Linked DNA regions of Homo sapiens. The protein of the gene in region 1 interacts with the protein of each later gene in a biochemical or structural test. Each region holds a gene or a part of one and is shown on either strand. Other genes may lie near its edges.

The links.
Region 2: the proteins of DLG2 (region 1) and SORCS3 interact in a test that uses a peptide from one of them, tested with the Homo sapiens proteins (one large-scale study listed by IntAct).
Region 3: the proteins of DLG2 (region 1) and FCHSD2 interact in a test that uses a peptide from one of them, tested with the Homo sapiens proteins (one large-scale study listed by IntAct).
Region 4: the proteins of DLG2 (region 1) and ARVCF interact in a test that uses a peptide from one of them, tested with the Homo sapiens proteins (one large-scale study listed by IntAct).
Region 5: the proteins of DLG2 (region 1) and KIDINS220 interact in a test that uses a peptide from one of them, tested with the Homo sapiens proteins (one large-scale study listed by IntAct).
Region 6: the proteins of DLG2 (region 1) and PLCB4 interact in a test that uses a peptide from one of them, tested with the Homo sapiens proteins (one large-scale study listed by IntAct).
Region 7: the proteins of DLG2 (region 1) and GAB3 interact in a test that uses a peptide from one of them, tested with the Homo sapiens proteins (one large-scale study listed by IntAct).

The regions. Positions count from the first base shown.
Region 1 is NC_000011.10:83,457,612-83,461,922, reverse strand, and holds part of DLG2 (disks large homolog 2), read left to right. Parts: intron 1-1,998; coding exon 1,999-2,105; 3' UTR 2,106-4,311. UniProt on the Homo sapiens protein: Required for perception of chronic pain through NMDA receptor signaling. Regulates surface expression of NMDA receptors in dorsal horn neurons of the spinal cord.
Region 2 is NC_000010.11:105,200,172-105,204,646, reverse strand, and holds part of SORCS3 (VPS10 domain-containing receptor SorCS3 precursor), read right to left. Parts: intron 3,528-4,475; coding exon 3,394-3,527; intron 1-3,393. UniProt on the Homo sapiens protein: Plays an important role in modulating synaptic transmission and plasticity in the hippocampus, probably by affecting the trafficking and localization ofAMPA-type glutamate receptors in the postsynaptic density.
Region 3 is NC_000011.10:72,841,819-72,846,293, reverse strand, and holds part of FCHSD2 (F-BAR and double SH3 domains protein 2), read left to right. Parts: intron 1-2,553; exon of another isoform or gene 2,554-2,761; coding exon 2,762-2,845; exon of another isoform or gene 2,846-2,965; coding exon 2,966-3,143; exon of another isoform or gene 3,144-3,452; coding exon 3,453-3,673; coding exon of another isoform or gene 3,674-3,677; intron 3,678-4,475. UniProt on the Homo sapiens protein: Adapter protein that plays a role in endocytosis via clathrin-coated pits. Contributes to the internalization of cell surface receptors, such as integrin ITGB1 and transferrin receptor.
Region 4 is NC_000022.11:19,974,768-19,979,242, reverse strand, and holds part of ARVCF (splicing regulator ARVCF), read left to right. Parts: intron 1-162; coding exon 163-346; intron 347-1,167; coding exon 1,168-1,285; intron 1,286-1,656; coding exon 1,657-1,828; intron 1,829-2,519; coding exon 2,520-2,537; intron 2,538-2,565; coding exon of another isoform or gene 2,566-2,666; exon of another isoform or gene 2,667-2,675; intron 2,676-3,485; coding exon 3,486-3,557; intron 3,558-4,475. UniProt on the Homo sapiens protein: Contributes to the regulation of alternative splicing of pre-mRNAs.
Region 5 is NC_000002.12:8,827,083-8,831,557, reverse strand, and holds part of KIDINS220 (kinase D-interacting substrate of 220 kDa), read left to right. Parts: intron 1-4,428; 5' UTR 4,429-4,464; coding exon 4,465-4,475. UniProt on the Homo sapiens protein: Promotes a prolonged MAP-kinase signaling by neurotrophins through activation of a Rap1-dependent mechanism. Provides a docking site for the CRKL-C3G complex, resulting in Rap1-dependent sustained ERK activation.
Region 6 is NC_000020.11:9,074,846-9,079,320, forward strand, and holds part of PLCB4 (1-phosphatidylinositol 4,5-bisphosphate phosphodiesterase beta-4), read left to right. Parts: intron 1-4,475. UniProt on the Homo sapiens protein: Activated phosphatidylinositol-specific phospholipase C enzymes catalyze the production of the second messenger molecules diacylglycerol (DAG) and inositol 1,4,5-trisphosphate (IP3) involved in G-protein coupled receptor signaling pathways.
Region 7 is NC_000023.11:154,743,937-154,748,411, reverse strand, and holds part of GAB3 (GRB2-associated-binding protein 3), read left to right. Parts: intron 1-4,475.

The DNA.
Region 1 (4,311 bases):
GTGTACTTGTGCCCTAAAACCTTCCTGTTGAGAATCCCTAATATCTGTTTCATATACAAGGAGTATCCCTCTGCTTCACCCATTTTGATGTAAAACCCTGGGTTCTCCTGAGAGTTCAGCTGCAGCCAGCTCCCAGGTTCCCACCAGCCCTACCCAAAACCATGGGCAGGAGATACCCCTGAGCTATCTCCTACCATGAAAAGGATTTGAGGCATTGCTACCTCATTAAACTATCTCCCTGATATCATCAGAAAACTTGAAAAACAAAATTTTAGGGCTCAAAATGGTCAGTGTCCAAAGCAGTTACTCTTGAGAAGAAGCTTGGAGGCGTCCGTCCCCAGCTCCATGAGCTTTCATCAGTGTCCCTATCAGCAGCACCTGAACAAGATGCTTAAAACTTCCTCATGTTTCAGTTCACTGTGTCAAGTCTCAACCAAAACTGCTTTTTTTTTCTTTTTAAATGTTTCCTTGGAAACATGAAGGGGAATAGAGGTTTTCTTCTGGAGAGCCTGAGTTCTGAGTTCTGTATTCCTATATACTTTCATAGAACACTGAGTAATCAGACTTTGTGAAATTTGCCTTACACCTGGTTCCCGGAGGTTTAAAAACAAGAACTTTCGAGCTGGGCTTATGCCTCTAATCCCAGCACTTTGGGAGGCTGAGGTGGGTGGATCACCTGAGGTCAGGAGTTCGAGACCAGCCTGGCCAACATAGTGAAACCCCCGTCTCTACTAAAAATACAAAAAATTAGCTGGGTGTGGTGGCAGGCACCTGTAATCCCAGCTACTAGGGAGGCTGAGACAGGAGAATCACTTGAACCCAGGAGGTGGAGGTCGCAGTGAGCCGAGATCGTGCTACTGCACTCCAGCCTGGGCAACAAGGGTGAAATTCTGTCTCAAAAAAAAAAAAAAAAAAAAAAAAAACCCAAGAACTTTCTTCCTGGATTACCATATGTGAAGTTAGATGTTTTATTTTTTACCTTATTCAGAATATAGAAAGTGTCAGTGCCTTAGCAGTTTGTAAATATCTTGAATCAGGTAATATTAAGTAATCTTTCTGTCAGTAACCAAGATACGAGCTGTGTTTCATCCTAAAAGAACATCCAGGTAGGAGAAACAAAAGTGTACATTTTGACAGTGGTTTATATTTTGTATACAATACAATAATATATTCTGAGGATTGTTTTTAAATATCTAAATCATCTTTCAGTAGTAATTTATTTTTAAGACCTAGTGTCATATGGATAATACTGATGTGTTTTGGAAATCTTTCTACAAGATAACTTTTGTTCAAATGAGACAATAAAATGTACTTAAATCTACTCCAAGTGACTTAGTGTTTTAGGAGATACACAACTGAGCAGTTTGTTTATATTTCTTCCTGTTTATGTTTCTTATAAATAGTGGACTTATGGTATTCTCAATATGAATAGCTCTGTATGGTAAAAATCTCAAGTTACCAGAGATTTGGGGAATTAATGGGTTTTCCTATTAAGGGCTTTGAGGGTTGGGAGGCTAACTAAACTTCCCTCTAAAATCTTCATTATTTCCTCGGTGTCTACAATATCTGAATTTCTGCTGCTGCCAAAATAAGTAAATATACAGACTGTAAGGCCAGTTTTCTTTTCTAAATAGGGAGCTCTCAGTCTGAAAATTGATCATTGCCCAGCTCAGTGCCTGGCTCAGAGTAGGCACCCATAAAATATTGGTTAAATAGATGAGTGATAAATTGTCCAGTACTACAGACAGACATGTAGAAAGTGCAAAGACTGTGAATCATTTGTTACTGATCCAGGATATCCATTGAAAGCATTTCTTAAAATCATGAATGTAACTTTGCTTATATGAATTTTCTGCTTCTTCTTACTAATGAAAAATGATATGAAGCTTCCTGATGAGTCATCTGCTACTGATTTGAGCCTCCAATGTGTAAGTGATGATTGTTCTTCACCATCCAGGAAATTATTTCTAATTCTGGGTGTGTTTGCTTTTGTTACAGCTATTGTCCAAGGAGATACTTTAGAAGATATATATAACCAATGCAAGCTTGTTATTGAAGAGCAATCTGGGCCTTTCATCTGGATTCCCTCAAAGGAAAAGTTATAAATTAGCTACTGCGCCTCTGACAACGACAGAAGAGCATTTAGAAGAACAAAATATATATAACATACTACTTGGAGGCTTTTATGTTTTTGTTGCATTTATGTTTTTGCAGTCAATGTGAATTCTTACGAATGTACAACACAAACTGTATGAAGCCATGAAGGAAACAGAGGGGCCAAAGGGTGGGACAGAAAAGACATTGCAGTATGAAGGAAGGCTTTGGTTTGCTCAAAGTGCCAGGTGTAGGGATGAACCTCTGACGGGCTTTCTGCCCAAGAGATGAGATGAGAGCCTCCTCACCCCAGCAGATGTCCAGAGCTGATTTAGCTGCAGAGCTCTCTGTGTCTTTTGCTTTAAAGAAAAATTGCCAGCACTCGAACCTCATCAGCCTTCCCATTACCCACATCTGTAATTGGTACACTTTGAATTTTATAACTATGCACATCTTTTGATTTCTTAACAAGCAAATGAAAGAAAGAAGGAAAAAAGAAAGGAATCCCTTTGGAGATGACATACTATCAGGGAAGGATAAGTGTGTAGTTTTTTGACTGGCATCTGCAAAGACAAGAATTTCATAAAATTTGCAAGTGTATGGAGGACTAACCTCACTGACAGGAGGGGATTCCACCTGGGATTAGCTTTATGATTGTTGATTGCCTATTTTGCCATTTATAAACTGAAAGAAGGCACTAAAGATGAGAATAATTTATACAATAAAAATATATTAAATGTATAGAAACAAATTTCTATAGGTTAAAAAAGTTTTGTGAAATATTTTGTAAAGACTAATATTGAAAGACTAAATGTATGCAACATCAGCAGATGATCAAATTCAAGACCTGAAAGTTGCACTCTCCCTTTTGTTGCCAATGATCTGTTAAGAGCATCTGAGTTCCTTTTAAGTCTGACAAAGACTTCTTCCTCACTTACCTCCCTTCCACATTAGTGATACACTCTCATGCAGCACATCCCTTAATGAGTTGCCCTCATGGATATTTTTGGAAGACATTTGGTTAATGCATTTTTTTATGCTGATGGCTTTTCAGAGACAAACTTATGCAAATGATCTAAAGGGAAGTTTTTGCTTTCCTCTAGTTAAATAACCTGAGCCTGCCATGCAAATAGTTGAATAACTTTGTTCCTAGTTACTGACATACAATTCTTAAAGGACCATTTAGCATTTTGGCCAACAATGAGTAATTAGGATTAGTACCTTTTTGTTTTACAGAGTAACTGAGAGTTTTGTAACATCCAGAGATGGTACTAGAGCCAATGAGAGATCTGTTCCTAGATGCACTATTTCTTTGAGGAAGAGAGAGAAGAGAAGTGTCTGGTTGGGGGTGAGGGGGTGCAGACTTTTTTGTTTCTATGTACAGAGCAAAGAGATAGAGTCACAAGGAAAGACAATTAATGACTTTGAGCTCAACCAACTGAACTGCCTTTCTTGGAGCTGCACCTGGACCAAGTTTATTTTTTAACAATTATAATAACGATGATTTAAAAAAAGAAACCTCCCAAAGCCTATAAACTGAACTAGAAGAGTTGGTTTCCCACTTTAGAGTGGATGGCGACATCAGCATTGCTTTTGCCCATGGTGTTTGGGGAGAGACTTTTCAGTGATAATAACCACTCTACTCTGGGTTCTGTGCATGCCCAGACTAAGCCCCATCGCCTTATTTCTGGGGTACATCCAGACCTGGCAGGGATTCTGCCACACTGTGCAGCAAACCAGCATGTAGGCTGGGTAGGAGAGCAAGAGATAGAGCCATCAGAGTGATGGGGCTTCTTCACAGTAAGAACATCGGAGCTTAGAATGAGAGTCTCTTTCCAAAAACAGGCATTGTTCATCTTACGCTAAACATCATTGTCTGCCTGGCTACAGTCACCAAAACAAAACAGAAATGCAAAATTATGCATCTTCCCATAGTCCTGAGGCTTCCTTTGCCAATGGAAGGGCTAGCAATGCATTCTCCCTCTCATGAAAGTTAAATTTCCAGAGACTTCCTTAGATTGCTCAAAATGTTAAAGATATGTCCATGTCTGCAATTCGCCAGTTTCAGGTCAAGGCCTACTTTCATCAATATTGCTCCCAGAAGTTTTCTGACACCAGAATGCCATTCCTGATCCCAGCTCTATTTTTAGGCCACCACGATAACTTCTTTGGTTTCTCAACTGAGCATGCAACCATTTATTTAAAAGACTGTCATTA
Region 2 (4,475 bases), on another chromosome or scaffold:
CTACTTTACTCAAGTGGTTCTCTATATTCTTTTTAATATGAGGTGTGATTGGCTATAAAAATGCAAACATACACCACATTATATATCAAAAAAAATTCTATAAAATATTTTTGGAGACCATACACCTATTATGATTCTAGTACCAATGGTCAAAACTACTTCATTGGAAATTGTTTTAGTGTTGAGGAAACATTCTACCTTATATTTCATCAACAGCAGTAAACCCAAGTCCTTGGGGATGAGTTTTAATTTTAGAGTAAGTAAACTTGGAAACTTTATTTTTTTCTGAAGCAAAATGAATCTAAAATAATAAAGACTTGTTTGATTTCTTGAGAAATGGCAGGGTGTAGAGGAGAGAATGTGGAATTTAACTAAATCTGCACTTGAACCCCAGCTCATTCTCTCCCAGGGATGTAACCTTGATCAAGTAACCTATATCCAAGATGTTTCTTCTCATTAAAAGGCAATAATAAAGATCCTGACATTACAGCGTCTTGGATCCACATGGTACCTCTACCAGTGCAAGTATGAGAACCACAGAAGGCCGTGTAAAGGCTCCCCCTCGCCTCTCCCACCGTGCTTTACTTATAGATGGATTCTGACAGCACTCCCTAAAGAAGGGTTCAGAAATACTTTGAGCAATGCCACCAGTACTGAAGTAAATGGATCAGACCCCAAGATCCTACTCTGAAAACAGTGCTTATTTGGATGTATAAGCTTTGGTTTACTTCCAAAAATACCATAGGGACCACTTAACCCTAGGGTGTAAGAATAACAACAGCATCAACAGCAGCAGCAATAGCTAGCCTATGTTGTATTTCTATGTTATACATCAGTAGGATAAATGCCTTATCTATATTAATGATGTATATTAATATATGAATTCATTTATTCTTCCTTAGGACCCAATGCGGTAGATGTCATGTATTTTTATTTTGCAGCTATAGAGATGAAGTCACAAAGATTAAGAAAACTTGCCAAGGTCAAAAACTGTGACTATCAGTGCTAGAATTTTTGCCCAGACCAGTAAATGTTAATGGAATTACTGATGAGAAAATATTTTACAGTTCTTATTTCTTCTCACTTGTGATGCTACCCAACAATGGGTGAGGGTCTATTATGGCACACAGAGACACAGGAGAATATGTATCATGACAAATTCAAAGACAGTGTGCCTCAATGGAGTTAGTCTGCAGAAGGACACAAGGAAGCCTAAAATTAATATTCTGAATATTCAGGTTGACATCAATATGTCACAAGCCATAATTTTGAGTGGCCTACTGCACTCATTGCTGTGACTATTTTTGCTTAATTGTGATTAATAATTGAAAATATTTTTCACAATGTGAAAATATACTTTGCTGCCAAGGGCTCAAAATGGTCACAGAAAGGACTCTGCTAGTCAAACTTAAATTACACTTAGTATATCTCATTTTCATGAATTTCACTGAAGCCATGCTTTCCTAGGTATGAGTTTAAGGATAAAGAACAGGTGGAGAGCAGAGTCACTCCTCTGGCTTCCAGTTATATTCCTAGCAGAAAGTGGGAAACAAAGGATAGTTTCTAGTACAAATCAAGCTAAAAAACCAGCTGGATGAAATGAGGCTGGAAGAAGTGAGGCTGCCATTCAGGGGCAGCTGCTCTGTGCCCACTTGGACTTACTTTGACTATCTGATGCCAGAGAAGCCCAAATGCAGCTCCATCATTGCCCTGCCCCTCCCAAGTTTAGAGGCCAATGCCCAAGCCCTTAGTTTTGTCTTTTAACAAAGACAAAGCTGAGATGGGCTACCAAAATAATCAAATTGAACTTTAGCTTTTTATTGTGATGCAGGGGAAGAATTCATCCAGCTGGGATCGGAGTGCTATGTACCCATTCCCAGAATTGGGGAGATTTTTGACCCTCCTAAAAGGAACAATGTTCAGAAACATGCTACAACTCTTTATTGAATGTTTACAGCGGGCCAGGCGCTGTGGATGCAGAAACAAGGAAAGTCTAAAACTCCTGCATTCCCAGCACTTACATTCTACTGGAGAGATAGGTGATAGTGGAACAATCAAAAACATGTTCATTTTGTACGGCAATTAATACTAAGGAGATAATAAAACAGGGATATACTAGACTGTGCCAGGGTATAGGTGAGATTAGGTGGTCTCAGAAGGCATTTCTGAGAAGCTGATATTTTTGCTGAGACATGAGTGACTCAAAGGTGCCGGCCATACTAAGATTTGGAAGAAATTCTTGCATTTTCTGCTCCCTCTGCTAGGAATGAGCCAGGATTAATAAAGGTGCAGGAGGTGGTAATGCGGTTGCAATACAGTGAATGAGGTAAGAACAGTAAGGAATTTTGACATAAAGGTAATTGCAGGGCTAAATCACCTACAATGGAGGAAACTAAGGAAAGAAGATTAGATTTTAAGTGAGGGGGAAGATATTGGAGTATTCTAAGTGTAGTAGTGATAAGATATGGTTTGAGTTTTTAAAATACCATCTCGGTTGCTGTGAGGAGAATGAATTTTAAGTGACAAGGGTGGATGTGGAGAGAGTTCGATTCCTGGAGTGATACAAACAGCTGAGAGATGGAAAGAAGTGATTTGACTTAGAATGTGTTTTGAGGGTAGAAACTGCAAGGACTTGCAGATGGCCTGGATCTGACAGTGAAAGAAAAGGAGAAACCAAACCCTTCTGGCAACTGAGTGGATAGCTGTGTGTTTTATTGAAATTAGAAAAACTGGGCAAGGGACTCCTTCCAATGAAGGGGATTCAAGAAAAGCTTTGCTTTGGCTGCCTTAAGTTTGATAACCCTGATAGTGAATCAAGAGGAGATGAATGCTGAGTAGACAGCCAGACACATATGTGTCCAACCAAGAGAAGGGGGAGGCCAGGGCCAGAGGTAAATATTTGGAAATTTGGGAGTAATTGTCTATAGGTGAGATTTGAATTTCATTAAGTGAGATTTAAGGTTGTTCTCCATTGCTGTTATTAGGGGGAGAAAAAGGAAACAAGAGAGAGGTCACGTAGAAGAGCACAGTGAGAGTGCATGTGGCTGGAGGCAACAGCAAGGCAGTAGCTCTCTAACCTCTGTCAATGCCCAGCACAACTTCTCCAGTAGTTTCCAATACAGCTGCTCAGTGTAGATGAGAAGAAGCCCCCTGAGAGATGCTGCTCTGATAGATCAGTGACTCTCTCTGTGAAAATGCCTCAGCCTGTCCTCCTTCCAGGAATGCAGACTTCCCATCTGGCCCAGTAACTGGGATGGATGGGCCCACAGGCCAGCAGATACACCTCCTATCTCTGCGTCATGCTTCCTCTCCTAACTTCATCTTCACCCCACCCCACCCCACAGACAGGTGAAGACCTGGTTGGAATTGGTAATGAAATGCCAAACAACTCACCACTCGAAGTCCCAATTGGCACAGACACAGGGTTCTGAGACCACTGATCCTGAGTGGTCTCGGCCCAGGGCACACTGAGCTCCTGGCTTACGTTTCTTGAATATTTTCCTTTCTCCCATGACACAAGGCTCTCCCTTAGAGAGAAATTCCATAGTGTGAGAGACAGAAAAACAAAAAGGTGGTGAAATAAACCAGTTGTCAACAAGAAGCATTAGCCTGTTCATTCTCATTTAGGTACTTTATGTAGCAGTCTCATTCTCAGTAATGATCCAGGAGTTTCAAGAATAAAAGTGCTAATCTTTCACTACCACATAAAAGGAACATTATGGAAGGTGGGCCCACTTCTACCCTCCACCCACCCAAGCCAGTGATGTCTACATCATCCCGTTTCTGCTCCACCTCCATAGAGAATGTAAGGACTCCAGGCATCTTTGCAGACCACCAGGTACATTTGCCCAAATGGCTTCAGTAGCAATTCTAGTGGAAAGGAGCCCATTTATGGCACATTTTTCACATGGTCTTCAGAGGGAAATTGAAGTTGACCCAAAATGTTCCTTCTCTATGATAAACGACCATGCCCAAATCTTAATTCCCAGTCAAGAACAAAGAAAGGAGAAGTTGATACAAATTACAAGGACCCAGTGGTTCTGGAGCAGAAGTCTGCCTATTTCTCACAGCAGTAAATATCTACCATTGCTAGACCTACCCACCCTGACACCATTTCTCAGTGGACCTGTTCCCAGTGCTCTGGGTCCCTTATTTCAGGCTAGTCTGAGAAATGCTCTCGCCCTCCACATTGGCAGATAAAATGAGCAACTCTTGGAGGCCTTCTAGCTGTAAAAAGCTCATTTCTCCATGGATAGAGCTAAAACCCCAGGTTATCATCAACACCTTTCCCCCAGGCAGCTCAGTGACCTCAATTAGTAGATAGGATCCCAGGGTGCGAGATAGTTCCTAAATATCATCTGGCCCTACTGGACCTGAGTGTGTTTCACCCTTTTCTCCAAATCCACACCCACATCCTCAGATGACCCACTACCTTCCTCCCCTAAATAGGAAGGCTCAGATAAGACCCAGTCGGA
Region 3 (4,475 bases), about 11 Mb from region 1:
CAGGAGAATTTCTTGAACCTGGGAGGCAGAGGTTGCAGTGAGCCGAGATGGCACCACTGCACTCCAGCCTGGGCAACACTGTGAGACTCCGTCTCAAAAAAAAAAAAAAAAAGAGCAAAAGGAGGAGCAGCTTACTCATCATGAGTAGTCTGGGAAAACATATGCGCTCAGTCTCAAGTCAAAAGTAATCGTAACTACTTATCTATCTATCTATCTATCTATCTATCTATCTATCTATCTATTTATTTGTAATCCCTTCAATAACCCTATGAGGAAGATATTATCAAACACCCCATTCATTCAACAAATAGTGCTTGAGCACCTTCCATGTATCAGTGCTGTGGGCTTTTCTAGGCTCTGGGATATAGCATTGATCAAAACAGACAAAAATCTTTGCCCTCATTGAGCTTATATTCTAGTACGAAAAAAGAAAACTGAGGTTCAAAGGTATCTTACAGTCACTTGCCCATAAAAATATACTGAAGCTGGACTTAAACCCACAGTAATCTAAGTCTGCTCATCAGATAGGAAAGAGGGAACAGAGCCTGATGGACGGAAGAACACCTATAAAAGCACAGAGGCAAGGAAGAACATGGTATGCTCAGAGAATAGAAATAGTGTGCAGGGGCCAAAGCGTCAAGAGGCCCACAGGGACCAAACTCTGCAGGGTCTTGATAGCCATGCAAAGAACTTGACCTTGTTAGGTGGAAGAATTGGTCATCACTGCTTTAGGATGGGATGATCAAGCTAGTGTCTGCTTACATTGGACAACTAGTGCTGCAGTGTTGAAAAACTTGCATGGACCTCCATGGTTTTTGTTTGTTTGTTGTTGTTTTTTTTTTTTTTTTTTTTTTTTGAGACAGGGTCTTGCTCTGTCACCCAGGCTGGAGTGCAGTGGTGTGATCTCGGCTCACTGCAACCTCTGCCTCCCTGCAACCTCTGCCTCCCTGATTCAAGTGATCCTCCCACCTCAGCCTCCCAAGTAGCTGGGATTACAGGCACGTGCCACCACACCCACCAATTTTTTGTATTTTTCATAGAGACAGGGTTTCGCCATGTTGCCCAGGCCGGTCTCAAACTGCTGGCCTCAAGTGATCCACCCACCTTGGCCTCCCAAAGTGCTGGGATTACAGACGTGAGCCACCTCACTCAGCCTCTCCATAGCTTTTTATAAGGGCAGCAGTTTATTTAAAAGTGTACTACCTCCCTGGTTTGCTGTCACATACATTAACGTCTGGTCGTGTTGATACTTTTTAGGTCTTGCCATGAAAAACATTTTTATTACAAAAATGCCTTTTGCTGGCATATTCAAGGCATAGTGTGGTTTCAGAGTAGTGAAGGAATTCCATTGGAAAAGCTATCAAGGGTAAATGAGTGGGGTTTTTTCCTCAATATTATTTTTCTGTCTCAGGGAGCTATGGCAACATCCAGAATCTGGATTTTGATGAAATGTTTTAATGTTCATAAAATGGGAAATTGATCTTGAAAATGACCCCTTTTTTGCCTTATTTTTGTTTGTGTAACTTGGAGTTAATTTTACATTTTGAGATTGTGAGATTTTAAAAACTTTATGGTTTTAGGTGATGGTTTTAACCCATCTTGGGACTTGGGGAAAGCTTTTAAGACTGTTTTCTAGAGAGCCAGAAGCCAGCAGGCCCCTGTCTATTACACATGACAGGCAAGACTGTTAGGAAGCAAAGCCACACGGACTTTCCAGCCCCTCTGTGGAGCCTCAGAGCGTTTACAGATTTGGCAGTCTCAAGGGCAACATGTGGGTGGCTGATGCTGGTGGATTGCTGCTGTCAGGGATAATAAAACCATTATGGTTAGCAGCTTGTACGGTAGCACGCAAATGGATCAGCTCAGTCTCCACACAGTTAAGTTGGAGCATAAGAAATCCAAACCATGACTGATCTCAATCATTTCCTTTCCTACAATTTTTTTCTTTTGGCCACTGCTTTACAGTGATTCCAGATCAATCCTAGGCACTGCACCCACTATCATCAAATTCACGTACATAGTTCTTTGCATTTTCACTGCATGCTTGTCCATGGGAGCCCTCTGGTAGCAGTTCCAATTCAGTGCCTTCTCGTTTGCCTTTGCTTCCCAAATCATCACAGTTCTGTGCTTATCCATCCCACATTGACTCACATCCTCCAGAAAATGGCAGGATTGTCATTTCAAAGAAATGGAGGCATCAAGTTGAATAACTTGATACAGAAGCTGGAGTTGGAACCCAGGTCCTCTACTTCCAGGAAGTGCTCTCTTTTTTTGTTTGTTTTTTTAGAGACAGGGTCTCGCTCTGTTGCCCAGGCTGGAGTGCAGTGGCTCACTCATGGCTCACTGCAGCCTCAACCTCCCAGGCTCAAGCGATCCTCCCACCTCAGCCTCCCAAGTAGTTGGGACTACAGGCATGTTCCACCATGCCTGACTAATTTTATTTATTTATTTACTTATTTATTTATTTATTGGTAGAGATGGGGGTCTCGCTGTGTTGCCCAGGCTTACATGTTCTGTTCATTGAACGTCATTGCCTCTTGAGGATTCAGTTTCTTGAGTTTTTGTTATGGTTTTATTCTGTTTAGTTTTTTAAAGTAAAACTTCACCTCATTATGAAAGTTTTACAGCATTTAAATTTTTATGTTCAACATGTTTCTCAAAATCATTTCAATATTTTGATCCCCAGTTTTTGTCATGATCAGCTCACATCTGCTCCTTATCTAACCTTTTTAATTTTGTCCATGACCATCCTACACTGCAGGCTTCTCAACCAGATGAGTTGACCATTGAGGAACATGAGGTGTTAGAAGTGATTGAAGATGGAGATATGGAAGACTGGGTAAAGGTATATTCCTTTGCTCATATCGCCCTTTCTTGTGACATTTTTAGGAGTTTGTTTTGGTCTTTGTTGTGCCCTGTCTAAATTGTGTGTGTAAACTTGTTTTGTCACATGTCTTTTACCCAGGCTCGAAATAAAGTTGGCCAAGTGGGTTATGTGCCAGAAAAGTACCTACAGTTTCCCACCTCGAACAGCCTCCTGAGCATGCTGCAGTCCCTGGCCGCTTTGGACAGTCGGTCACACACGTCCAGCAATTCCACGGAAGCAGAACTCGTTTCAGGCAGCCTCAACGGAGATGCCAGTGGTAAAGACTGAAACAAGGCACTCTTTATTTGGTCACGTTTGACCTAAACTGTATTGCCCTGGAGTAAGCCTTCAGTAGGATAAAAAGCACAACTTTCCTCCTGTCCTATAATATGCTTTTCTTTATATGGTCACGTTTGTCCTGCACAGTAGAACCCTAAAGTTAATCATTCATCAGTGAGTAAAAAAATTACAACTTTAATCCTATTCTGTATGATGCTCTTTTAGTTGTCATGTGAGCATAGGGGTGGTTGCAAAAGCAACCGGCTGTTAATTATCTTACCAGATTTGTTTTTCTCTTGCTCCCTAGTATGTTTTGTGAAAGCACTTTATGATTATGAGGGCCAGACAGATGATGAGTTATCTTTTCCTGAGGGAGCAATAATCCGTATCTTGAACAAAGAAAACCAAGATGATGATGGCTTCTGGGAAGGGGAATTCAATGGGCGTATTGGAGTTTTCCCATCGGTGCTAGTGGAAGAACTTTCAGCCTCAGAAAATGGTGACACTCCATGGATGAGAGAGATTCAGGTACCTGAGAGGGGAGACAGTTGAATTAAAAGATGTTTAAAGAAAATTGCTCCCAAAGGGTCTGTGGATCCACACAAAAGTGGGCTGCAGTCTCTGCCTTACCCTCACCGGTCCTTGGTTGCCAGTGTCTGCACAACTGCATTTGGGAAACCAGAGACTTGTCAGTCAGTCCCTTGTGGAATGTGGCCATCCTCCCACACCTCCATCTTCCCACATTCTCTCTCTTCCTTGAATTGGTTAACCAAAATGCCAAATTATATGTGACATACCAAAGATCGTTTTGGTGGAGAGAAAGAAACAAACCGAAGAGGGAAGGCGTTGCTCTGTGGTTAATTTACGTAGTAAAACTCTTAGCTGGCTCTCTCTCTCCCTCACTGTCAGAGCCTCCTTGCCTAGTCCAGGTCCTGCCAGTCTATTTCAGAGAATTAATGAGCCTGCCAGAGCCCCTAATCCCCACTCAAGTGACCCTAGACTTAGTTCATCACAGGGAAACAGCCTTTAAAGGAACCTCTAATTCAGTCAGAGTTTAGTTTGTCCCCTCAGGGATCTATCACTGCAGGCCAGACAGGTAGAGGAAGAAGGAACGTGTTTGCCGATCTTGTTTGCGTGGTGATTGTGACCCCTTAGCCTAACATGCACAAAACCTGGGGAAGTCAGAAATTCAGCAAAGTATTTTATCTTCACCCCAAAAAATCCAACTTGTTCCTTTTGTTGTTGTTGTTCTTTGCTAAGTTTACTGAATTGACTAATTTGGTACATTTTCAATAGAACCCTAGAGAGTAGCTTCACTTGATAACTGTTT
Region 4 (4,475 bases), on another chromosome or scaffold:
GTACTGGGTGTCCCCCGGAACCACTCACGGCTTTTGTTACTTCCTACTGTTCTGCATGAGCTGGGACATGAGGAGAGTGGGACAGGTCCTGAGCGTGGCCACCTGGGGAGGTAGGCAGGCGGTGCATATGGTCAGCACAGATTGGCCAATCGCACCCCACAGGCACCCTGTGGAACCTGTCATCCTATGAGCCCCTGAAGATGGTCATCATTGACCATGGCCTGCAGACGCTGACCCACGAGGTGATCGTGCCCCACTCAGGATGGGAGCGTGAGCCCAACGAGGACTCCAAGCCACGGGACGCCGAGTGGACAACTGTCTTCAAGAACACGTCGGGCTGCCTGAGGTGTGGACCAGACCTGGTGCTAAAGCCCACATGCACACCAGGCCCCGTCCTCGTGGTCCCAGATAGTGTGGAAGATGGCGGCGAGCTTAGGAGCGCCAGAGCTTAGGAGCTTCAGAGCTGTGGCACAAGTCCTGTGGATGAGAAGTGGGGCCTGATGGAGCTGTCCTCACCCCCAAGTGGTGTCCCAGTCTTCCCAGGGGCACCCTCTGGAGGGGTCTCTGTGGTACCGTAGCCCTGCCCAGCTCTCACCTACCTTCCCATCACTTGACAGCCAGAGGGGGAGCTGGGACCTTCCTGTTCATCTGCCTGGGAGGCTCATCCCAGCCACCTGTGACCTCTGCCCTTCCCCTCCTACCCCTGGGAGGCCCTGCTGACCCCACAGAGTCCTGGGTCCCCACAGTCCTGCTTGTCCATCAGGGTGTTCCCGCGCAGCCCTGCAGGCTCTTGACCTTGGGGTAAGGTGGGGCCCAGAGCTGCCATTGGGGTGGCGAGGGACCCAGAATTGCCCTTGCACAGGTTCAGGTCTCTCTGAGAGTGCACCTGTCCCTTTCCAGGTCAGCTGGGAGGCAGGGAAACCCTGTCTTTCCCTGCCCAGCTATCCCCAGCCAAGATAGTTGTCTGCCAGGGCTCCCCTCCTGAGGCCTGGGGGCAGTTAGCTTCTCCCCCTTCACTGAGCTCCAGACTGTGGGGTCCTTTCCCATTAGTGCTAGGAGGGCAGCAGCAGGGCCTATTTTGCAGATGAAGACAAGCCCACAAGGCCAGGGTGGAGCCAGGGAGTTTCTGGTAGCCAGGGGTCACCTGGCCTGCTCTTGGCCACACAGGAATGTGAGCTCCGATGGTGCTGAGGCCCGGCGGCGACTCCGGGAGTGTGAAGGGCTGGTGGACGCGCTCCTGCATGCCCTGCAGTCGGCTGTGGGCCGGAAGGACACTGACAACAAGGTGGGCAGGGACGGTCACAGCCTCATACCAAGGGCTGGAGAGACGATCATGCAGGTCCCAGGAGGCTGGAACTGTGGGAGCAGCACAGGGGAATGGGCTTGTGGGTCTGGGGTGGCGTTCTGGGTGTGGCCCGCCTCGCAGTGACCACACTGAAGTGGGCACCGTCCTGCAGGCAGAAGGTGTGCCGTGAGGGCAGAGGCTTCCTCCCATGGACCCTTCCTGGCGGTTACCGCCCTTTTGCTCCCCTCCACTGAGGACTCCCTGTTCCTTTGCTCCCGGTGCCCTCATGCACACCAGCTGTGGCCAGTCTTTCCTGAGGGCCAGCCCTGTGCCTAGGGTGCCCTGCCCCACCCACTCACCTCTCCCTGCAGTCGGTGGAGAACTGCGTGTGCATCATGCGGAACCTGTCCTACCACGTGCACAAGGAGGTGCCCGGGGCCGACAGGTACCAGGAGGCCGAGCCCGGGCCCCTGGGCAGTGCTGTAGGCTCCCAGCGCCGGAGGCGGGATGATGCCAGCTGCTTTGGAGGCAAGAAGGCCAAAGGTGGGTGGGGCGGACTGGGGTATCATCTCTACCATCTCAACTCCTGCCCCAGCGGAAGGCTCTCTGTACACCCACAGCAGCCCATCATGGAGGCTAGAGGACACCTGGTCAGCCCCCAACAGGCAGGCAGGGAAGCCAGGAGTCAAGGAGGCTGGACTGCCCTGGGTCACATGGTTGATGGGACCCAGGTCCAACCTTCCCCATCTACACTGTGGGACCCCCAGGGAGTACACAAGGGAAACCAACCAATGCCCAGACCCAGTCTTTCTACTCCGGGGAGAGTTCCACTTGCCCATGAGTTGGGAAGGAGCCATGGCTGCTGCCTGCTCACTGTTCACAGAATAGCTGTAGACTGCCACCAACCTGTGGGGCAGCCCCCCATCTGCCTGGGCAAGATGCCCTGCACACCTTCTCTACTGCACTAGCAGGGTGTAGGTTCCCAGGACCTCCCCAGCAGCTGTGGGGGACCTGTACGCCACCTGCCCCTGCCCCACTGACCCCAGGCCTCCCTCTTCTTGTACCCCTGGTGGGTGCTCAGTGCCCAGAAGTGATGGGATGAGGTTCCACATGCTGCCTGCTTGATCCAGGGTGTGCAGTGGGAACCTGAGGCTTCCGGGAGGGCATGGGGGGGTGATGAGTGCTGCCTGTTCAGGCTCCTCTCCTCTCTCCTCTGCTTCCTCCGGCCTCCCAGAGGAGTGGTTCCACCAAGGTGAGTCCCTTTTTATCCTGCTCTCCAGGCCTGGCGTGTGCAGTGGGTACCTGGGAAGAGGCGAGCACGTTCCAGCCCCAGGGCCCTGCCCCACCCCTGGCTTCATCACTCGGGCTGCCATCTTTATGACAGTGGCAGGTGGGAAGGCCACGGGGCTCATTCTGTAACCTCAGACTTGCCTACCTGGGCAGAGTTGGGCAGAGCCAAGAGTGGGCAGGGCCCGGGGGTACTTATCTCTAGGGGCACCAAGGAGCAGTCTGTTTCTCTGATAGAATGGGGCATCATGTGGCTCGGAGGGATACAAGGGTCCCATGAGGGTGAGCAGGGCAGGGACCCCAGGTCATCTGGCTCCACTCTGCTGCCTTCTGAAGGGGTAGAAGCATCATCTGACATGGGGAGAGTGGTTGACAGTGGGCTCACTGTCACAGACGTGTGCAAGCCAGGGCTACACAAATGTTAGGTGGGCTGCTGTGGGGTTTCTCCTGGCTAGTAGATCCTGGGACAATGTCCTGACCCCAGCTGGGGGAGTTTCCCCCTAGTTCTGCCTTACTGTGTGACCCAAGTGAGTCTTGTCCTGGTCAGCCTTCAGTTTCTTGGCTTGTATCCACCTACCATCCAGCCAGGGCTCCTGGCTTCCCTCAGTCTACATACCTGGCAGTTGCAAGGGAGCCACCGGGAGGGTCTGTGGTACAGCTCCCAGCACCTGGTGGGAGATGAGTCCTAGGGGCAGGGCTGGGACATCCCCAGGCCCCACTGCCACCAACTCCTACCCCTAGGCTAAACTGTCTGCCCAAACTCTGACAACGGTGCTCCACTCCCACAGGTGCCCAGGCCTGGACATGGGGGTGCCTTTTGGGGCCTGGGTAGGAGAGAACTGTGCCCAACTCTCCTGATACACCCATTCCCCATATGGGGTCTGCCTCACCTCCCACCACCTTTCCCTTCCAGGAAAGAAGGATGGTGAGATGGACCGGAACTTTGACACGCTAGACCTGCCCAAGCGAACTGAGGCCGCCAAAGGTGAGTGGGCTGAGATGAAGCCAGCTCCACTGGGGGATGTCTGGGCTCAGGATTGCCCTGGTAGTGAAGCTTTGAGCCATCAAGCAGGCCTGGAGGGCCTCAGGGAACAGATGGGGAAACAGGCCCCTAGGTGCAGGATTTCCTGGAGGGTGATTCAGCACCAGGACACCTGCTGAGGGTTTAGAATGGGAGGAAGTGCCATGGGTCATGTCAGGCAAGGTTGGGGGAGACAGGCACAGAGAGGCCGAGGGCTTGCTCGGCCTCACGGTGCGTAAGAGGTGGGAAGGTTTGGAGGGACGCCTCCAGTGGAGGCAGGGCCTCCTGTGTTAGCCACAAAGCTGAGTTATCTGAGGGGGCTGGGAGCCAGGCGGGCATGCTCACATCCAGGTTCAGAGGCTGGGCCAGACGAACACCTGCAGGGACAGGGCAGTGCCTATTGGGCTGTATGCTGGGATCTGGCTTGAGAGAGAGGTCTGTCCTGGTGGGGCCTAGCCAGTTGGAAGAGCCTGCATGTCACCAGGGTGGAGGGCTCCAGCCGCAGGAGGGCTGTGGGGGAGTATTACAGGCAGAGCAGGGCTGATGCAGATACCCCAGCGGGGAGTGTGCTTGGAGTGTGTTGGAGCAGAAAGCCCAGCAGGGCAGGAGTAGAGGGAGCATGGGGCATGAGGACTGGCGAGGGTGTGATGAAATGTCACTGGGTGGGTACAGGGGAGATCGAGGTAGTACCCAAGCCAGGCTGAAGCCCCAGTTTGGAGACAGGCAAGCTTGGAAGGCTGTTTTGACCCCTCATTTCTGGAGCACTGGGCAGAGCAGCAGGACGGCGCCTCAGTTGCCCGGGAACTTGGAGTGGTTGCCAGGAAGAGTGCCTCCTGTTGCTAGGGCAGCTGCCCTGGTTGCACTGCATCAGTTGACTTACAG
Region 5 (4,475 bases), on another chromosome or scaffold:
CAGCTTGGGGTAAGCAGCCAGTCAATGAAGGCTTCCAGAAGATCTGTTAGAGCCATGTTCTTAAGGATGGGTAGGAGCTGTTCAGGCATATATACGTGGAGAATGGACTTTCTAAGCAGAGGGGGCATTAAGTGCAAAGGTCTGGAAAGAACAAAGTGTGGGGCAGTGAAGGAGCTGCAAGTAGATCAGTCTGGCTGGAGCTGGAGGTGTAGATGTGACTATGTAGAGGGTGGGAGGGATGGGGCTGAGGAGGGGAGAAAGATAAGGCTGGAATGGTAAGATGGGGCCAGATTGTGAAGAATCTGCATGCCCTCATCATAATCAAGAATTGAACTTACTGAGTTTTCACTCTGCTCAGTGGAGAGCAAAGCTTTCCGTAGGAATTGTGTATTTGCATCTTTACAATGGCTTTAAAAGCCTTAGAAGGCGTAAGTTCCTTGAATAACTTGTAAGTAGTAAAGCTGTCATCTGTCCTCCCAACCTTGGTTTTAGGAGAGATGTATTGTAGGTCACTCTTGCTTCAGTGTGGCAAATGGATTGCAGGTGGCAGGCCTGGAGAGAGGAGGCAAAAGTTGCTAGCCTGTCACATTGATCTGGGTGAGAGATGGTGTAGTAGAAGTTTTTAGGATTGATGCCTAGATCACAACTGTTTACTCTTTTCTGGAAACAGTGCCAATATGGTGTGACCTTGTAACCCCCTCCCAACTTTGTGTCTCTAGTTGCTTGGTTCTGGGTGTGCAACAGATCCAGCCTGGGCAGTCAGAGCCCTTTTCTGGGACTGTTGGATCTGGGAACAAAGAATAGCCTGCTTTCTCTGGTGTTAGAGACTATCTGATTTAGGCCAGGTGCGGTGGCTCACACCTGTAATCCCAACACTTTGGGAGGCAGAGGCAGGCGCATCACTTGAGCCCAGGAGTTTGAGACCAGCCTGGGCAACATGGTGAAACTTCATTTCTACAAAAAATAGAAAAATTAGCTGGGCATGGTGGTGTGCACCTGTAGTCCCAACTACTCAGGAGGCTGAGGTGGGAGGATCGCTTGAGCCCTAGAGGTCAAGGCTGCAGTGAGCCATGATCGTGCTACTGCACTCCAGTCTGAGTGACAGAGTGAGACCCTGTCTCAAAAAATAAATAAACGATCTGATTTGAGGCTGGATGGCTGTGGGAAGCCATATTTCCCTTTGTGTAGAAGTAGTTGGTCTAGAAGGAAAGTAGATTAAGCCAGTAGAGAAAGAGAATCCTCCTGGCATTTGAGGTCCAGTGGCACCCACTCTTCCTGTAGTGTGGTTATGGGAAATAAACCATTATCCTTCAAATACATTTTTCTGTTTTGCTTAAGCTAGTTTAAATTAGTCTCTTGCAACCTTAGGGGTCTTGATTAGTATAGATGGTGAAGGTCTAAACTAAGGCACTGAGTGTGGGGTTGGGTGATCTCACACTTTAGGGGGTAAACTGGATGAAAAATGGTAGCTGTGTGACTCAGAGGGAGATGGGTGCCTTGGTAGAGTAGAGATGAGGATGGTGTTCTACATGGAAGGAGCACATTGAGCATAGGCGGGAGTGTGGAGCAGCACTGGGGGAGTGTGGTGAATTTGAGTTCTTCTGCTTGGCTGGGCTGTGGGGTGAGCTGGGGCTGGTATAGAGGGAGAGCCAGATCCTGCAAACCTCACTGAGGCCTTAGGCTTGATCCTAGAAGGAGTGGGAATAAATGAAGGTAGGTGTTGGTGATGACTGCTAATACAAACCCTCACTGCTTTCTAATGATAGAAGCATCACATTCCAGAACATGTAGGAGATAAAGGTTTTAAAGAAAATAAAAATTACACTAATGCCCATCACCATTTGTTCTTTTTTTATTTCCAGTATTTAAAAATGTATACATTTAAAATAGCTGAGATGCTGTATATATAGCTCTTAATCTTTTACCTCACTTCTTCTATCATGAGCATTTTTCTGTAACACATTTTTTGAGACATTTTGATGACTGTATATTATCCTACTTTGTGAATTTTTATAATTTATATAATATCCATTTCTAAGATTTTTGTTCTTATGGATAAAATTGTTTTACTTAAAATCTTAAAATTTTGTTCATGTTTCTCATGTTTTTAGAATAATTCCTAGAAGTGCAACTATGGGATCAAATAACATCATTTTTTAAAATAATAGTTTTTCACCCCAAGAGTATAAATTCAAGTTGTTCTGAATATATACTCCCTAAAAGTAAGGTATACTGATTTATACTTTACATGTAATAACATTCACCCTTTTTAATGGACAGTTCTGAATTTTGACAAACGAATGATTGTGTAACTGCCACAACAGTCAAGATATAGAACAGCCATTAACTCGCCAAATTCTCTTGTACTCTTTTGTAGCCATCTCATTCCCCTGCCTTAGACCCTGGCAGCCCCGATCTGTTTTCTGCCCCTGCAGTTTTCCTTTTCCAGAATGCTATATAAGTAGAATCATATAGTGCTATAGTTTCTGCCCTCTGGCCCCCAGAGATAGATTTCCTTCCTGTGTCAAAACATATTCACTCCATCGCAAGGCCTCCCCAAAAGTCTCAGTTCATTTCAGCATCAACCCAAAGTCCACAGTCTCATTTAAATCTCATCATCTAAATCAGGTATGAGAGGGTCTGGGTGTAGTCCATCCAGAGGCATGATTCCTTTCCACCTGGGAAACGCAAGAATCAAGTTATCTGCTCCAACTTAGAGTTAGGGAATGGGCATGGGATATCAGTTATAGACAGTCCTGTTCAAGGGTGGAGGAAAAGGAAGGCAAAGAGGATTCACCAGTCCCAAATAATTTCATTTTCATAACAGCCAAAGTTTTCAATTTTGACGAACTCTGGTTTATCAGTTTTCTTTTTTTATGCACCATGCTTTTAGTGTTATATCAAATCTTTCTTAATCTAAGGTCACTGAAGTCATCTATATTTTCTTCTAGAAGTTTTGTACTTTCAGACATTATATTTAGGTCAATTTTGAGTTAGCACCTGTATGTGGTACAAAGTATGGATTGAGGTTTATTTATTTGCATTTGGATGTCCAGTTGAATATAATAAAATTTCTACTCTTTTAGAACTTATAGTTATGGTAGACAGACAATAAGTGAACAATATGTCATTTTTTGGATGGTGGCAAGTGGTGTGGAGAGCAGTGAAAGCAGGACAAAGGGTTGAGAGTGCAGGGTGACAGTGAAGCCTGTGTGGGGTCGGTACCCTGACATCCCACATCCGGTGAGACTTTGTAACCAGGTGACCTGACGGGGTCAGGGGGTAAGCCGTGTGCATGTCCTGTGGAAGAGAATTTTAGGCAGACAGAAAAGTAGCACAGAGGCCTGGCGAGGTGGGACGGTGCTCAGTGTGGCCATGCAGCCAGGAGGGTGAGAGGGGGTGGTAGGAGCTACAGTCACAGGTGTCACACAGGTGAGAGGCTTGCCACTGAAGAGTTATCTTGGCCAAGGTAAAAACATTTGATTTTACTTTGAGCACCCCGAGAAGCCCTTAGAGGGCTTTGAATAAAAGAGGCCATGCTCTGACTTAGTACTGCTCACATTGTGGTTCTTCCTCAGTGTTGTCAGTGTCACAGGGAGCTGGATAAAGATGCAGAGTCAGGGGCCCCACTCAGACCTGCTGAGTCAGAATCTCTGACGGTGGGGCCCAGGAATCTGCTTTAAAAGCTCTTCAGGTGATTCTGATATATGTTAAAGTTTTAAAAAAAGTAATGTAATTTTAATTGACAAATTATATATATTTAGGGGTACAATGTGATGTTTTGATACATGTATCCATTGTGGAATGATCAAATCAGGCTAATTAACATATTCATCACCTCCCATACTTAATTATTTATTTGCAGTGAGACCATTTAAAATCCACTCTTCCAGGTAAAGTGGAGGCAGGGAGGCCAGTTAGGAAGCGATGATAGTGACGCAGGTGAGTCACGGTGGCTCGTCCAGGGTGGCAGTGATGAAGTGGTGAGTAGTAGTCAGATGTGAAATGTATTTTACAGGTAGAGCCAAAAGCATTTGCTAATAGATTGAGTGTAGGGTGTAAGAGGAAGAGGTAAGTCATGAACAATTTCAATGCTTTTGGCCTTGGAAGAATGGACCTGGAGCTGCCGTTTACTGGCATGGTGACAGCAGGAGGAGCAGGGGAGCATTTTGGAGTGGTGATGAGGAGGGTTTGGGGATGGATGTGGAGTTTGGTGTTTGGATAAGTTAAGATGGAGGTGAGTGTGAACCTAAGAGACATCACGGCAGCTTTTTGACACCTGAGCTATGGAAGCCGTGGGAAGTCGTATCTTCACTTCTGCCACTGGAGGTGTCCTTGCATGAGGTTAATGTTAAGAAGGATATTGTATTTAATAGTAACTTAATTTTTTCTAATTATAAATTATGTGTATTTTGTCTAATTTAACAGGTATTCAAATAAAGTTAATTGCAGCTTTCTGTGAAAATGTCAGTTTT
Region 6 (4,475 bases), on another chromosome or scaffold:
CAAAACATATTAAGCCATTTAGACCTGGAGGGAGAAAGGCCTCCACTAGAAGAATTAGGGGTCTCTGGTGTTCAGGGGCAGTCACCATAGCTCTTGTTTTTCCATGGAGTTTCTCGGAGAGTACTCAACTTCTCTGCTTTACATAGTATTATAATAACAACAACAAAATAAAACAACAGACATTTGTTGAGCAGTTAAAATGTGCCACTTTATTTAATACTTCTGACAGCCTTTTTGAGTGTGTCCTAATAGCATCTCCAGTTTATACTTGGGGAAACTGAGGTTAGGAGATGTTAAATTAATCATCCCAGGATGTTAAAGTTAGAATTGAGACTGAAACTCAGGTAGGCTGACATCAGAACTCCAACTTCTAACCACCGTACTGTGTATTACCTGTCATTAAGCTGGTACATGCTGCAGAAAGACTTGTTACCATAACAAGTTTTGTGATAATTATTTTAAGTGACTAGGCTGAGATATGACAAAAGCTTCTGGCAATCCTGCTGTGAATATGGAATTGGAATAAGAAATTGAGGATAAAACAATGCATTCTTATCTAATCCTAGGTACTTCTGTTTCTGCAGTTGCATGCCAGAAATCCGAGATAGGGAGAGTACTAAATGCTAATTCGTGGTAGCCTAAACAAATAGTTTTAGTTTTCTGGAAGGCCGGTTTTTACCTGGTGAAGTTCCTCATGGTTTTAATGAGGGTGTGGTGTACTCTGATTCCTCTAAGGGCCAAGTAAGTGAAAGGCCCAAGTGTGGCTGACCAGGTGTCAGAGGCCTTAGGGAGTGGTGAGGCTTGCGCCCATCCAGGGGCCCAATTGTGCCCCTTCCCATGGAGCAGCTACCACTCGGGTCTGACAGGTTTCTGCCAGGTGGGCCTAGGGCCCAGGATTACCAGTGCCTCCACATTTTCAAGAGAAGCATGAAATCCAGATTTATTTGGAGTCTTCTCATTTTAAAATGTTTGGAAATAATTAAAATGGAAAACAAACCTGTCAGCCCATGGTGTGGCCAAACAAAGCATGTTTGTGGTTTGACCCAGGAGCTCCCATGTTGAGCCTTTTGTTAGCTGTAAGTGCTTGGAAACACCGTGTACTAGAACATGTCAATAGTTTTTGTTTTGCCCTTTAATTTTTTTGGCTGTAAAATTTCTTATAAAGGTTGTTATGGTCATTTATTTCCAGTGTACATAGATTTCAGATTCTGAATTTCTGCTTGTTTATTCTCTCCCTATACCCTATTTTTCCAAGCTGTTGGCAAATACACAAAGTTGAGGGGGGAAGGGCATGTTTTTTCCTCCTGTTTCATGGTGCTCCTTTAAAATAAGAACACCTGGCCGGGCGCGATGGCTCACGCCTGTAATTTCAGCACTTTGGGAGGCCGAGGTAGGTGGGTCACTTGAAGTCAGGAGTTTGAGACTAGCCTGGCCAACATGGCAAAACCCCATCTCTACTAAAAATACAAAAATTAGCCGGGTGTGGTGGCAGGCGCCTGTAATTCCAGCTACTCGGGAGGCTAAGGCAGGAGAATTGCTCGAACCTCGGAGGCAGAGGCTGCAGTGAGCCGAGATCACATAACTGCACTTCAGCCTGGGTGACAGAGTGAGACTCTGTCTCAAAAAATAAATAAATAAATAAAAAATAACACCCAAGTGTACAGAAATAGGTGACTTCATTTATGGAGACACAGAGGTTCTCTTGCCTGCCTCACTGATTTGAACTCTAACCAGTCACAAGATGTCCCCCCTGCTATTTGGTAGTAGCTGTATTTGTCCTGAAATATAGAATACAGATCTGTTCCTGCAGACCAGTGTTTCAAGATGCAGTCCGCTTAACAGCCCTCATTTTCCTTGTTGCTTTTAAATGAGAGACCACACTGGATCAAATGAAAATGCAGTTCCTTCGGGATGTGTTTCTCTCATATCTGCCAAGATGCTATTATTGGACAAATCACCAAAGCCCTCTCTGGGATTTCTTTTAATTTTTTTTCATTGGTTTTTTAAAATGATGTAAGTAATACATTAATATGTTCCAATTGAAGTGATAATGCAGAAATATGGAAGCAAAATGCAAAGTACCCTTTTCCACCTACACCCATTCCCAGATACAGTCATTGGCAATAGTTTAGAATGCCTCTTTCCCTCCTTTTTTCTGTACATTTACATGTATAAGTATATATACATGTCATTTTCTTATTACATATACTGGATCATATTGTATACATTTTTGTCTGTGACTGACTTGCTTTTGTCCACTTAACTGTATATCATGGAGAGCTTTCCATGTCAATATGTTAGTTATCTTGTTCTTTCTAACATTGCATAAAATTTGATAGTACGGATGTACTGTACTTTATTTAACCATTCTTCTGTGGACACTATTGCAAACTGAAAGATTCAAGATCTTTGTTCGTAGGTCTTTGTGCACATGTGTGAGAATTTTTTTTGTAGCTAAATTTCTAGAAATGGAACTATTTGGTCAAAAGCCTATGCACACTTCAAATTTTGACAGAGCACTGATGAATTGCCTTTAAAAAAGGTCTCCATGAAATTTGTGGAACCTCTGATTATGCAGCTGAACATAGCCTCTAATTGCAGCATGTCCCACATTGTTACCTCGCTTTACTAATTCAGTAAGATTTCACTTGTATATGGCATACCAGGAAGTGATTTTAGAAACAGACTATGTCCTTAAAATCCCTTGAAAATACAGTTCTTAATCAAAACAAATTGATCAGTTAAGGGGCTAATGTAAAAACTCTTTTAAGAAAGACATATCTTGTAGAATCAGAGAGTTGAAAATCTATTTTCTGATCAATTTGGTGAGCTGTGAAACTCTAGACCCTTCCCAGCAGGGACATGTCCATAAGCACCCTTTAATCTGTTGTTAGAGAAGTGAGGTGGTCCACAGCCAACACAGACAGATCAGACGTTGATACTGGCCTGGGAAAATTAATTTCATTGCTGAAAAATCCTATCCAGGTGTGTTTGTAGCTTTAGGTTTTCAAATACTAGTTATTTAAGAATCTCTTTTGCTTTTTACTTAAAGAATGAGAAGATTAGGAGATAATGCTATTTAATGAGTTTTATTTAATGGATACTTGAATTTAATGTCCTTGACTCTTATTTTTTTATATTTTATTTTATTTTTGAGACAGGGTCTTGCTCCATTGCTCAGGCTAGAGTGTAGTGATGCCATTATGGCTCACTGCAGCCTCATCTTCTGGGCTCAAGCGATTTTCCTGCCTCAGACTCTCGAGTAGTTGGGACCAGAGGCGCACACTAGCACACCTGGCTATTTTTTTCTGTTTTTGTAGAGACAGGGTCTCGCTATGTTGTCCAGGCTGGTGTTGAACTCCTAGGCTCAAGCAGTCCCCCCACCTCAGCCTTCCAAAGTGTTGGGATTACAGGTGTGAGCCACTGCGTCTGGCCTGGCTATGTTTTTTTGAAATGATATGTTGATAAAGGACTATATAAATTAGAAACTATACCTTCTTTTCTTTTCTTCTCTTTTCTTTTCTTCTTCTCTTCTTTTCTTTCTTTTCTTTCTTTTTTTGAGATGGAATGTCACTCTGTTGCCCAGGCTGGAGTGCAGTGGTGCGATCTCGGCTCACTGCAACCTCTGCCTCCCTGGTTCAAGCGATTCTGGGTTACAGGTGTGTGCCACCAAGCCCGGCTAATTTTTGTATTTTTAGTAGAGATGGGGTTTCACCATGTTGGCCACACTAGTCTTGAACTCCTGACCTCAAATGATCTGCCCTCCTCAGCCTCCCAAAGTGCTGGGATTACAGGTGTGAGCCACCACGCCTGGCTGCTACACCATGTTTTCTTTTAAAGAGATATTGGGAGAAATATTGCAGGAAATCTAGGTCACTGATTGATTCCTAACTGTGTTCAGAAGGGACTACTTTGATAACTGTAATTGTTATTAATGATATGAAGTAAATTATTTGTGAATTTTACCACATTCCTTGAAAGACTGAGACTCAGTCAGGGTTAGTGAGTCTTGATTAGATAAATGACAGCAAAGTGAAATACTGTTTCTGTTTCCCAAAGATGGATTTAGTCCTTTCATCTGTTTCTCCAGATACTCATTTTTTAAGAAAAATTCTGGTTTGGTTGGCAGTGACATTCAGATTCTGATTGTATGCCTTCTGCATGTTTATTTTTACAACACACTGTGAATTGTAGAAATATGGTGGGACAGTCATATTTCCTTGGCATTGAAACCTTGCATATTCAAGAAAGTCTGTGCTAGGTTTTGCTCATGGAAATGTTATAGTGTTTCACAGTTTACAGACAATTTCCTTTGATAATGTCTGTGAAAGCACAGTGGAGGGCACCACCTGGTCACTCTTTCAACCTGTATCATTCAGGGCCCTGCTGGGGAACAGATGGCATGTGTACGCCAAGTCCTTTGAGGAGGGCTTGTTAAAGGGACCTTTTGCAAGGTGTGGGCAGGTGTAGGGAAT
Region 7 (4,475 bases), on another chromosome or scaffold:
CGCTACCTTCCCTTTGCTCTCCTCCTTATTCCACTCCCCAACCCAGGGATAACAACTGTGAGCCGTTCAGTGAGTACCATTCTACAAAATTTTTCAGAAAATATATAATTTTCTTTTTGCACAACTGGGATCATATTCTACTAACGGTCCTGCAATTTGCTTTGTTCACAAACATCCTGGACATCTTTCCAGGTTAGTACATATAGATTTACTTCATTCGTTAAAGCATTGTCAAATATTCCTTGTAATACATATAATATAACAATTTCTCTATTGGTGAACATTTGGCTTGCATCTATTTTTATCCATTTTAAAGAGTCCTATAATAACAGTGATAATAAAGCTATAATAGTTCACTTTTATTGAATGTTTATATGTGCCAGGCACTACACTAAGAACTTGTATTAACTCATTTAGTTTTCAAAACAATGCCAAGAGCCAGGCACTGTTTTTGTCCCTGGATATAGGTTCTCTGGATATAGGTTCTTTGTTGCATATTTAATTTGCAAATATTTTCTAGCAGCCCATAGTTTTTGTCTTTTCATCCTCTTTTGAAGAACTAAAATTTAAAAATTTTAATGAAATCCCCAATACAATTTTTCTTTTATGAATCATGGATTTAATGTTAAATCTAACAACTCTTCATCTAGCCTAAGATCCTTTGTCACCCAGCCTTGACCTCTTGGGCTCAAGTGATCCTCCCACCTCAGTCTCCTGAGTAGCTGGCACTATAGCTGCTCCCCACCATGCACTGCTAATTGTATTTTTTGTAGAGAGGACAGGATTTCTCCATGTTGCCCGCAGGCTGGTCTCCAACTCTTGGCCTCAAGTGATCCTTCCACCTTGGCCTTCTAAAGTGCTGGGATTACAGGCGTGAGCCAATGTACCTGGCCTCTGAAAGTTTTATAATTTTATATTTTATATTTAGATATTTTATATTTAGATCTATGATCCATTTTGAGTAAATTTTATAAAAGCTGTGAGGTTTGTATCATGGTTTCTTTTCTTGCATACCGATTTCATTTGTTCCAGTACTATTTATTGAGTAGACTGCCTTTATTCCATTGATTTACTTTTGAAACATCATCAAAAACCAATTTACCTGAAGGGCACAGTGGCTCACGCCTATAATCCCAGCACTTTGGGAGGCTGAGGCTGGAGGATCTCCTGAGGTCAGGAGTTCAAGACCAGCCTGGCCAACATGGTGAAACTCTGTCTCTACTAAAAACACAAAAAAAATTAGCCAGGCATGGTGGTGGGCACCTGTAATCCCAGCTACTTGGGAGGCTGAGACAGGAGAATTGCTTGAACCCCAGAGGTGGAGGTTGCAGTGAGCTGAGATCACACCATTGCACTCCAGCCTGGGCGACAAGAGCAAAACTATCTAAAAAAAAATCCATTTACCATATCCATGTAGATCTATTTCTGGATTCTCTAGTCTGTTCCATTGATCTATTTGTTTTATGCCAACAACATGCTGTTTAATGACTAATGACTGTAGCTTTACAATAATTCTTGAAATCAGGTTATTTTAGCCCTCAAACTTTTTCTTTCTCAGAGTTGTTTTGGCTATTTTAGGTCCTTTGTTTTTCTATGGCAATTTTAGGATTGGTTTGTCAATTGATTTCACTGACCTCATATCCCATAGCCTTGCTAAACTCACTTATTAGTTCTAATAGCCTTGTCTGTAGTTGCAACCTGCAATACTATAAATGTTGCATAGAAATGACGAGAGCAGACATCCTTGACTTTTTCTTGATTTTAGAGGGAAAGCATTCCATTTTTCACCTTTTAAGTATGTTAGCTGTAGGCTTTTTGTAGGCACCTTTTACCAAATTGAGGAAGCTCCCCCATCTTGCTAGTTTGCTGAGGCTTCTTCTCATGAGTTGGATTTTGTTGTGTTTCCTGCATCTATAAAAATGATGATATGTTTTTTATTTTTTAGTCTGTTACTATGGTGAATTACACTGCTTGATTTTAAATGTTGAACCAACCTCGAACTTATGGGATAAACTTCAGTTGGTTGTAACATATTATTCTTTTCATATATTTCTGGATTTGCTTTGCTGATAGTTTGGCTGAAGATATTTGTCTCTGTCCATGAGGGATATCGGTCTGCAGTTTTCCTTTTTTATGCTATCTTTGGTTTTGATATTAGCATAATGCTGGCATCATAAAATGAAATCAGAAGTTCTCCCTCCTCTTGTATTTTCTGAAAGATGTTGTGTAGAATTGGTATTCCTTCTTCCTTAAATGATTGGTAGAACTCACCATTGAAAACATCTGGGCCTATACTTTTCTTTTTGGGAAGGCTATCAACTACAAATTTTCTTTCTTTCTTTTTTTTTTTTTTTTTTTTGAGATGGAGTTTCACTCTTGTCACCCAGGCTGAAGTGCAGTGGCACGATCTTGGCTCGCTGCAACCTCCACCTCCTGGGTTCAAGAGATTCTCCAGCTTCAGCCTCCCGGGTAGCTGGGATTACAGGTGCCCACCACCATGCCTGGCTAATTTTTGTATTTTTAGTAGAGACAGGGTTTTGCCATGTTGGCCAGGCTGGTCTCGAACTCCTGACCTCAGGTGATCCACCCGCTTCGGCCTCCCAAAGTGCTAGGATTACAGGTGTGAGCCACTGGGCCTGGCCAAATTTTATTTCTTTAATAGATATAGGGCTATGTGGGTTATCCATATCTTCTTGAATGAGTGTCGTTAGTGTCTTTCAAGGCTTTTCTCTATTTTGTCTAAGTTCTTGAATTTATTGGCAGAAAGTTGTTCATTATGTTCCCTTATTATCCTTTAAATGCCTGTATGATTTGTAGTGATGCCTCAGTTTTCATTTATTACATTAGTTTTTAGGAACCATCCTTTGGTTTCGTTTATTTTCTCTACTTTCTCCCTGCTTTCAATTTCATTAATTTATCCTCTTATCTTTATTATTTTCCTCCTTTTGATTGCATTGGGTTTAATTTAATCACTTCTTTATCTAGTTCCTTAGGGAGGAAACTTAAATTACTGATTTGAGACCTTTCTTATTTTCTAATATAAGCATTTAGTGCTATAATCTTCCTTTTTTTTTTTTTCTGAGACTGAGTCTCGCATTGTCACCCAGGCTGGAGTGCAGTGACACAATCTTAGCTCACTGCAACCTCTGCCTCCTGGGTTCAAGCAATTCTCCTGCCTCAGCCTCCTGAGTAGGTGGGATTACAGGCACCTGCCACCATGCCTGGCTAATTTTTGAATTTTTAGTAGAGATGCGGTTTCACCATATTGGCCAGGCTGGTCTTGAACTCTTGACCTCAAGTGATCCAGCCCACCTTGGCCTCCCAAAGTGCTGGGATTACAGGCGTGAGCCACCACACCTGGCCAATCTTCCTTCTAAGCACTACTTTAGGTGCATCCCACAAAATTGGATATGTTGCATTTTCATTTTAATTCATTTCAAAGTATTATTTAATTTTCCCCTGAGATTTCCTCTTTGATCCAAGGGTTTTCTGGAAGTTTATGTAATTTCCCAATATTGGAATTTCTAGATATCTTTCTATTATTAATTTCTAGTTAAATTCCATTATGATCTAAGAACAAACTCTATATGATTTATATTCTTTAAAATTTGTTAAATGTATATCATGGCCCACAATATAGTTTCACTTCATGTACATAAGCACTTGAAAAAATATGTATTCTTCTGTCATTGGGTAAAGTGTTCTATAAATGTTAATTAGGCCAGGTTGGTTGATAATGTTATTCAGTTCTTCTGTATCCTTACTGATTTTCTGTTCACTTTTACTCTCAGTTACTGAGGGAGGAATGTGAAAGTTTCTATCTGTAATTGTAGATTTGTCCACAGTGTCCACATTTCTACCTCCAGTTCTATTTGTTTTTACTTCACATATTTTGATGCTCCATTTCTAGTTATACACATTTGGAACTACTATGTTTTCTTGGGGAATAGAAGCCTTTTTCATTATTTAATGTCTTGCTTTGTCCCTGATGCTATTCCTTGTTTTGAAGTCTATTTTCTTCTTTCTATTGTCTTTTTGATAATAGCTTTCTTTTGATATGTGCTTGCACGGTGTATCTTTTTCCATTCTTTTACTTCTAACCTCTCTGTGTCTATATTTGATGTAGGTTTCTTATATACAGCATAGAGTTGGGTCTTGCTTTTTAACGCCTTTTTTTTTTTTTTTTTTTTTTTTTTTTTGAGATGGAATCTCACTCTGTCACCAGGCTGGAGTGCAGTGGCACGATCTCGGCTCACTGCAACCCCCGCCTCCTGGGTTCACAAAGTTCTCCTGCCTCAGCCTCCTGAGTAGCTGGGATTACAGGCACGCGCCACCACATCTGGCTAATTTTTGTATTTTTAGTAGAGATGGGGTTTCACCATGTTGGCCAGGATGATCTCGATCTCTTGACCTCGTGATCCGCCTGTCTTGGCCTCCCAAAGTGCTGGGATTACAGGTGTGAGCCACCACACCCA